2 linked regions of the Homo sapiens genome follow. The protein of the gene in region 1 purifies or fractionates together with the protein of each later gene. This does not show direct contact. Each region holds a gene or a part of one and is shown on either strand. Other genes may lie near its edges.

What was found. Proteins that work in one complex are often made in the same cells at the same time.
Region 2: the proteins of ANOS1 (region 1) and ZFP91 purify together in Homo sapiens (affinity purification with mass spectrometry; one large-scale study listed by BioGRID and IntAct). This does not show direct contact.

The regions. Positions count from the first base shown.
Region 1 is NC_000023.11:8,722,027-8,725,679, forward strand, and holds part of ANOS1 (anosmin-1 isoform 1 precursor), read right to left. Parts: intron 1-3,653. UniProt on the Homo sapiens protein: Has a dual branch-promoting and guidance activity, which may play an important role in the patterning of mitral and tufted cell collaterals to the olfactory cortex. Chemoattractant for fetal olfactory epithelial cells.
Region 2 is NC_000011.10:58,602,910-58,606,562, reverse strand, and holds part of ZFP91 (E3 ubiquitin-protein ligase ZFP91), read right to left. Parts: intron 1-3,653. UniProt on the Homo sapiens protein: Atypical E3 ubiquitin-protein ligase that mediates 'Lys-63'-linked ubiquitination of MAP3K14/NIK, leading to stabilize and activate MAP3K14/NIK. It thereby acts as an activator of the non-canonical NF-kappa-B2/NFKB2 pathway.

The sequences.
Region 1 (3,653 bases):
TGAGATCTCATACAAAAAACTCCATCTATTGGGCTGAACTTGTCTGTTTACAAACAAGTCTTAGCCTAGAATAGACCCTAAGTTCCTCATGTACAGAGGTTTTAGCTCATCTTTGGAATTGTAACAATCCACTGATATTAGCTGAAATAAATGCAACTTATTAAATCAGTACTTTTTAAAAAAATACATTTCTATAGGTTTTTGGGGAGCAGGTGGTATTTGGTTACACAAGTAAGTTCTTTAGTGGTGACTTGTGAGATTTTGGTGCACCCATCACCCAAGCAGTATACACTGAACCCAGTGTGTAGTCTTTTATCACTCACCCCCTTCCCACCCTTTCCCCCGGAGTCCCCAAAGTCCATTGTATCACTCTTAGGACTTTGCATCCTCATAGCTTAGTTCCCACTTACAAGTGAGAACATACAATGTTTGGTTTTCCATTCCTGAGTTACTTCACTTACAATAATGGTCTCCAATCCCATCCAGGTTGCTGCGAATACCATCAGTTCATTCCTTTTTATGTCTGAGTGGTACTCCATTATGTGTGTACACACACACACACACACACACACACACACATACACACCACAGTTTCTTTATCCACTCATTGATTGATGGGAATTTGGGCTGGTTCCACATTTTTGCAATTGCGTGTGCAAGTATCTTTTTTCATATAATGACTTATTTTTCTCTGGGTAGATATCCAGTAGTGGGATTGCTGGATCAAATGGTAGTTCTACTTTTAGTTCTTTAAGGAACCTCCACACTGTTTTACTAGTTTACATTCCCACCAGTGGTGTAGAAGTGTTCCCTTTTCACTGCATCCATGTCAACATCTATTATTTTTTGATTTTTTGATAATGGCCATTCTTGCGGGAGTAAGGTGGTACCACATCGTGGTTCGACAAAGCAAGCAAAAACATAAAGTGTGGAAAGGACACCCTATTCAACAAACGGTGCTGGGATAATTGGCAAGCCACATGTAGGAGAATGAAACTGGATCCTCGTCTCTCATTTATATAAAAATCAACTCAAGATGGATCAAGGACTTAAATCTAAGACCTGAAACTATAAAAATTCTAGAAGATAACATTGGAATAACCCTTTGAGACACTGGCTTAGGCAAAGATTTCATGACCAAATACCCAAAACCAAACACAACAAAAACAAAGATAAATAGGTGGGACTTAATTAAACTGAAGAGCTTTTGCGCGGCAAAAAGAACAGTCAGCAGAGTAAACAGACAACCCACAAAGTGGGAGAAAATCTTCACAACCTATACATCTGACAAATAACTAATATCCAGAATCTACAAGGAACTCAAACAAATCAGCAAGAAGAAAAAACAAGCAATCCCATCAAAAAGTAGGCTAAGGACATAAATAAACAATTCTCAAAAGAAGATATACAACTGGCCAACAAACGTATGAAAAACATGCTCAACATCACTAGTGATCAGGGAAATGCAAATAAATCAGTACTTTTTAAAGAAAGAAACAGATTCAGCACCTATGCAGACAGTGATTTACATGAAAACAATCTACAAATGCTACATTTGTTCCTTTCTGGGCATTTTTTACATATTGGCTAATAAGTATAACTATTTTTATCCAACCCTCTTTACCATCAGGGAAAATGTCTCCCCTCACCTCTTTGAAACCATACACAAATTACATTTTTAAAATATACAAAGGATTGCAGGTCCTGGAGGATGTAGCTTTTTTGGGGTGTAGCTCCACTAGTTGCATGCTGAGTAAATCCAATGTTGGCTGATACCTGAACTATTGGGGCTCCCTTGCCTTCTTCCTAGACCTGCCATGTAGTACTGTCGTTAATGATGTCCTCTCACTCCAGCTACTGCCCACTTACCCTACAGCTATTTCAAGCTTGCCTGAACAGTGCATATTTTCACATTTCATTGAATTCTCAACAATGAGGGAGCATGATGTGCTTACCTACTAGGTCCAAGAATTGAAATCTTTTTACTGAAGTCATCAGGAGCTAGAAACTAAATTCAAGTAACAGAAAATCTTCTGAATCTGTTTCTTTATTTAAAATGATGTTTAAACTTTGTATACCCTCTCAATTTTTTGAAGGATAGTAAATGAAGTCTTAGCTGAGAGTGTAAAAGCTAACTTATATTTTTACTTATTCTACCTACTAGCTTGAACAGGTCATTTCTATAAGAACCGAGTTGTCTGATCAGAAAAAACAAAAGTGTTGAATGGAACCACGTGTTTCTGAAGGGAGGTGTCTTAGACTGGGTTTCCTAGAAGCAGAGGTTGAAATGGGGTTTCTCGGACATGAGGTAATATTGGGGCGGAGAGAAAAGCTCTCAGTAGAAGAGGGAAGAGAGGAAGCAGGAGAAGGCAGAGATAAGACCTGTGTGGGGATGGGCTCTCAGCCAGAGCCCTGCATAAGCCTGATCCCATGCGATGCTTTTGGGCATGAATTGCATTACAGAGCTGATTCCAGCAGGGGGCTGACCTCCTATATCCCCTGAGCAGAGAGCCAATCGCCATGGTCTGCGCACATCAAGGGAGGAGGATGCATGACCTTGCAAGCAAGATGGTGCCCATCGGCCAAAGGTTATTCCCTTAAAAGGAAGCAGCTGTAAGCTATTAGCAGCTGATACAGGAGCCGGGGGATGGTGGGGTAAGAGGCAAGAGGTCAACAACTGCATCGACTGGAGAAGGAATTGGTGTATATCACCTCTTTTAAAATATTTCAGAAAACTCCCCAAAATGACACATTTTCCTAAGATGATGGTGCAAAGAGAACTAAAATGTCATAACTATTCATTTTATCAATCAGCTCTGGTCATGGGGGCAACCTAATGCTAATCTAAAGCTTGAAAGAGTTATGGCTATCTTTGATTAATGTAAAGAGGAAAAACTAGGTCATACTTAATAAACGCCATATGTTGATAGACAACCTGCTTTCAAAATATGGAGGCCAGGGTAAGTTAAATGGAAAAGTTGAAAGGTAGCTGACTTCAGAACCCTAAGGCTCTGTGAGCTTAGATGATGCCCAGAAATTATGTTATTCTATACTTTACACAAGGCACTGCAAAGAGACATTTTCAGTTATTTCTATTCCTATTTCATAAATAAAAATGCCTTTTGATAATATGGATATGCTTCATTAATTGCTGTCCCAAACCTCTCTTCCCCCCAAAATGGTATGAGAGTCAGGTTTCTGGACAGCAATACCAAGTAATCCATTGGAACTTCTCCATTTCTGACTTAATACAAGCAGTACCCCCTAACACTTTCATAAGTCTCTCTACCTTAACCCCAACATTTTATACTCATTCACTGAAACATACCTGGTAGGTGAGAACATGAAAGGTGGTGAATTTATTTTGAATAAATATGATAACCTCCAAATTTATGATTACATTTTTAAAAGTGGGAACACTTGCACCAACAATATTACCTTTTTAATTTAGGTGTCCAAATACACACATGTGGATAAATAATATTATATACAGATATATATATATATACAGATATATATATACAGATATATATATACAGATATACATATATACAGATATATATATACAGATATATATATACAGATATATATATATACAGATATATATATACAGATATATATACAGATATATATATATACAGATATATATATAC
Region 2 (3,653 bases), on another chromosome or scaffold:
CAATATGCCCCAGTAACAAACCTGCACATGTACCCCCGAATCTAAAATAAAAGTTGTAAAAAACAATGTTTAAAGAACTAAAGACAATCAGAGCTAAAGAAAATCACTGACAAAGTACTAAAGGAAATCAGAAGAAATATGTCTCGACAAATACAGAATACCAATAAAAAGATAACTATAAAAAGGAACCAAGAGAGGCCGGGTACAGTGGCTCACACCTGTAATCCCAGCACTCTGGAGGGCCAAGGTGGGCGGATCACCTGAGGTCAGGAGTTCGAGACCAGCCTGGCCAACATGGCAAAACCCCGTCTCTACTAAAAATACAAAAATTAGCTGGGCTGCTTGTAGCAGCGCATCCCTGTATTCTCAGCTACTTGGGAGGCTGAGGTAGGAGAATCACTTGAACCCAGGAGGTGGAGGGTGCAGTGAGCCGAGATAACACCATTGCACTCCAGCATAGGCGACAAGAGTGAAACCACACCCCCCCCACAAAAAAGGAACTAAGAGAAAAAAATTCTAGAGCTGAGAAGTATAATAACTGAAATTAAAAATTCACCGCAGACTTGAAAAACAAGAATCAGTGAACTTTAAGCTAGGCCAACAGAGATGATCCAGTATGAAGAATATAAAGAAAAAAAGAATAAAGGAAAATAAAGCCTAAGAGATCGTTTAGACAACCATTAAGCATGCCAACAGATGCATAATAAGATTTGCAGAAGGAGAGGAGAAAATGAACAGAAAGAATATTTGAAAAACTATTGGGGAATATAGTCTGTACAAACAAGAACTTTACCTAACTCCTAGTAGGATAAATGAAAGAGATCCCCACCTAGACACATTATTATCAATCGGTAGAAAGACAAATACAAAGAACCATAAAAACAGCAAGAAGTGACTCATAAGCAACAAGGAATACTCAACAAGATTAACAGCCGCTCATCAGAAACCATGGAAGTCAGAAGGCAGTGTGATAACAAAGTGATGAAAGGAAAAAAAAAAATCGTCAAGCAAGAATTCTATAGCTGCCGAAACTATTCTTTAAAAACGAAGATGAAATTAAGACATTACCAGAAAATCAAAAACAGATTATCACTAGTAGATCTGCCCTATAAAAAATGCTATCAGGAATCCTCTAAGATGAAATTAAAGGACACTAGAGAGCACTTAAAGCCATAAATTAAAACACTGGCATATTTTACAGAGGCAAAAATATGATATTGTACTTTTGATTTCTAACTCCTTTTTCTCCCTACATGATTTGAAAGACAAATGTACAAAATAGCAACTGTAAATTTATGTTAATGGGCATTTGACATCAAAACATACACTTTGCAACAATAACATAAATGGTGAGGCACAGAATAGTACAGAGCAGAGATATGTTTACTACTGAAGCTAAACTGGCATTAAACTAGATAAAGTTTAAAGTACTAAATGCAATCCCCAGGTAACCCCTAAGAAAATAAAAATATACAGAAAATGAAAAGAGAAGATGGTACACTGCTATATATCTGCAACACAAGGAAATACAAAGAAAATAAAGATCAAAATAAAAGATATTAAGACAGGTAGAAAACACAAAGCAAAATGGCAGGCCATTCTTATCGGTAGTTTACACATACATATAGTGTGGAATTAAAAGGTACATATTAGCAGAATGGATTAACAAAAAATACAACCAATCTACAATCTGTCTACAAGAAACTCACGTTAGACCTGGTTGTCCAATCTTTTGGCTTCCCTGGGCCACACTGGAAGGAGATGACATGTCTTGGGCCACACATAAAATACACTAATGATAGCTGATAAGATAAAAAAATTTAAAAAAGAACTCATAATGTGTTAAGAAAGTTTACGATTTTGTGTTGGGACACATTCAAAGCCGTTCTGAGCCGCATTCAGACTGCAGGCCATAGTGGACAAGTTTGCTTTAGATCCAAAGACACAAACAGGTTCAAAGTAAAAGAATGGATTAAGATATTACATGCGAATAGTAAGCAAGAGAGAGCTGAAATAATGTATTAGTCTACCAGGGCTGCTCTACCAATCACAACAAACTGGGATGTCTTAAAACAACAGAAATCTATTCTCCCATACTTCTGGAGGATAAAAGTCCAAAATCAACACAATAACAGACCACACTCCCTCTCAGACTCTGAGAAGAATCATTCCTTGCCTCTTCCTAGCTTTTGGTGGTGGTCAACAACTTGGCTTATAGCTGCTAACTTCAATTCTATCTCCATCATCACACGGTGTTTCCTCCTGTCCCATGTGTGATGTCCTTATTCTTATAAGGACATCAGTCATAGTGGATTAGGGCCCATTGTAATACAGAATAACTCCATTATAACTTGATTACATCTGCAAAGATCCTATTTCCAAATAAGTTCATATTTACAGGTATTAAGGGCTAGGACTCAACACATTTTTGGAGGGATAAAATTCAACCCGTAGTAGTCTGTACCTTCTGGTTCCCTAAAATTTATGTCCTTCCAATGTGCAAAATACATTCACCTAATCCCAACCTCCCAGAGTCTTAACCCATTCCAGTATCAAGTCTAAATCCAAACAATACCTAAAAATCATCAACTCAAAAGGGATCAAATCTCATCATCTAGATCAGTTATGAATGAGACTGGGGGTATGGTCCACTCTAGAGCAAAATTCTTCTCCATCTGTGGAGCTGATTCCAAAAAACAATGGTGGGACACTTATAGATTACACATCTCCATATCAAAAGGAAGAAAATAGAAGGGGGGAAAAAGGGTCAGGGGTCCCAAGTTAGTCCAAAACCTAGCGAAAAGCATTAGACTTTAAGCCCTAAGAATAAGCTTTTGTGGATAATGGTTTGTACTCTGAGTCCACTGGGGAAATAGCCCTGCCATCGTGGCCCCAGGAAGTCTAATACACCCAGGACCCAGCATTTGCAGCTCTACCCTCAGCATCATTCTTCTTTAATTCCATTCTGTCTCTGTCCCATTCAGGCCAGCCTGGCAGTGTTTCTGCTGTCACAACATTCTCAAAAACTTTGTCAGTCTTTCATGAAATTCAGGGGGTCGAAGCCACCAAATGAGAGTCCTCCACAGATCTTTCCTGAAAAATTGCATGTCTATTCTGGGAAGTGCTGAGATGGCTGATTCGATCCACAAGTTATATACCAAGTCTCTTTAGAGAATAGCTGTCCAGTCACAGCCTTGGTCCTGTACCACAATACACTATTTGGACAGACTAAAAAATTTTCAAATTATCAAGTGCTGGCTCCTTTTTGCTAAACAATTCATTCCTCAATTTATATCTTTCCTCTCACACATTAGTATATAAGCAAGAAGAAACAAGGCTATACCTTCTACACGTTGTTTGTAAATCTACTCAGATAAATATCCAAGTTCATTGCTTACCCAATGATAGAACACAATTCAGTCAAGTTCTCTGCAACTTTATAACAAGGATCACCTTTTCTCCACTGTCCAATAACATGTTCATCATTTCCTTCTAAGGCCTCATCAGACTGCCTTTAACACTCATATTTCTGTTGACCATCTCTTCAAGGCAATCTACGCTGTTTTTTCTTTTCTTTTTTTTTGAGACAGAGTTTCACTCTTGTTGCCCAGGCTGGAGTGCAACGGCGCAATCTTGGCTCACCGCAATCATCG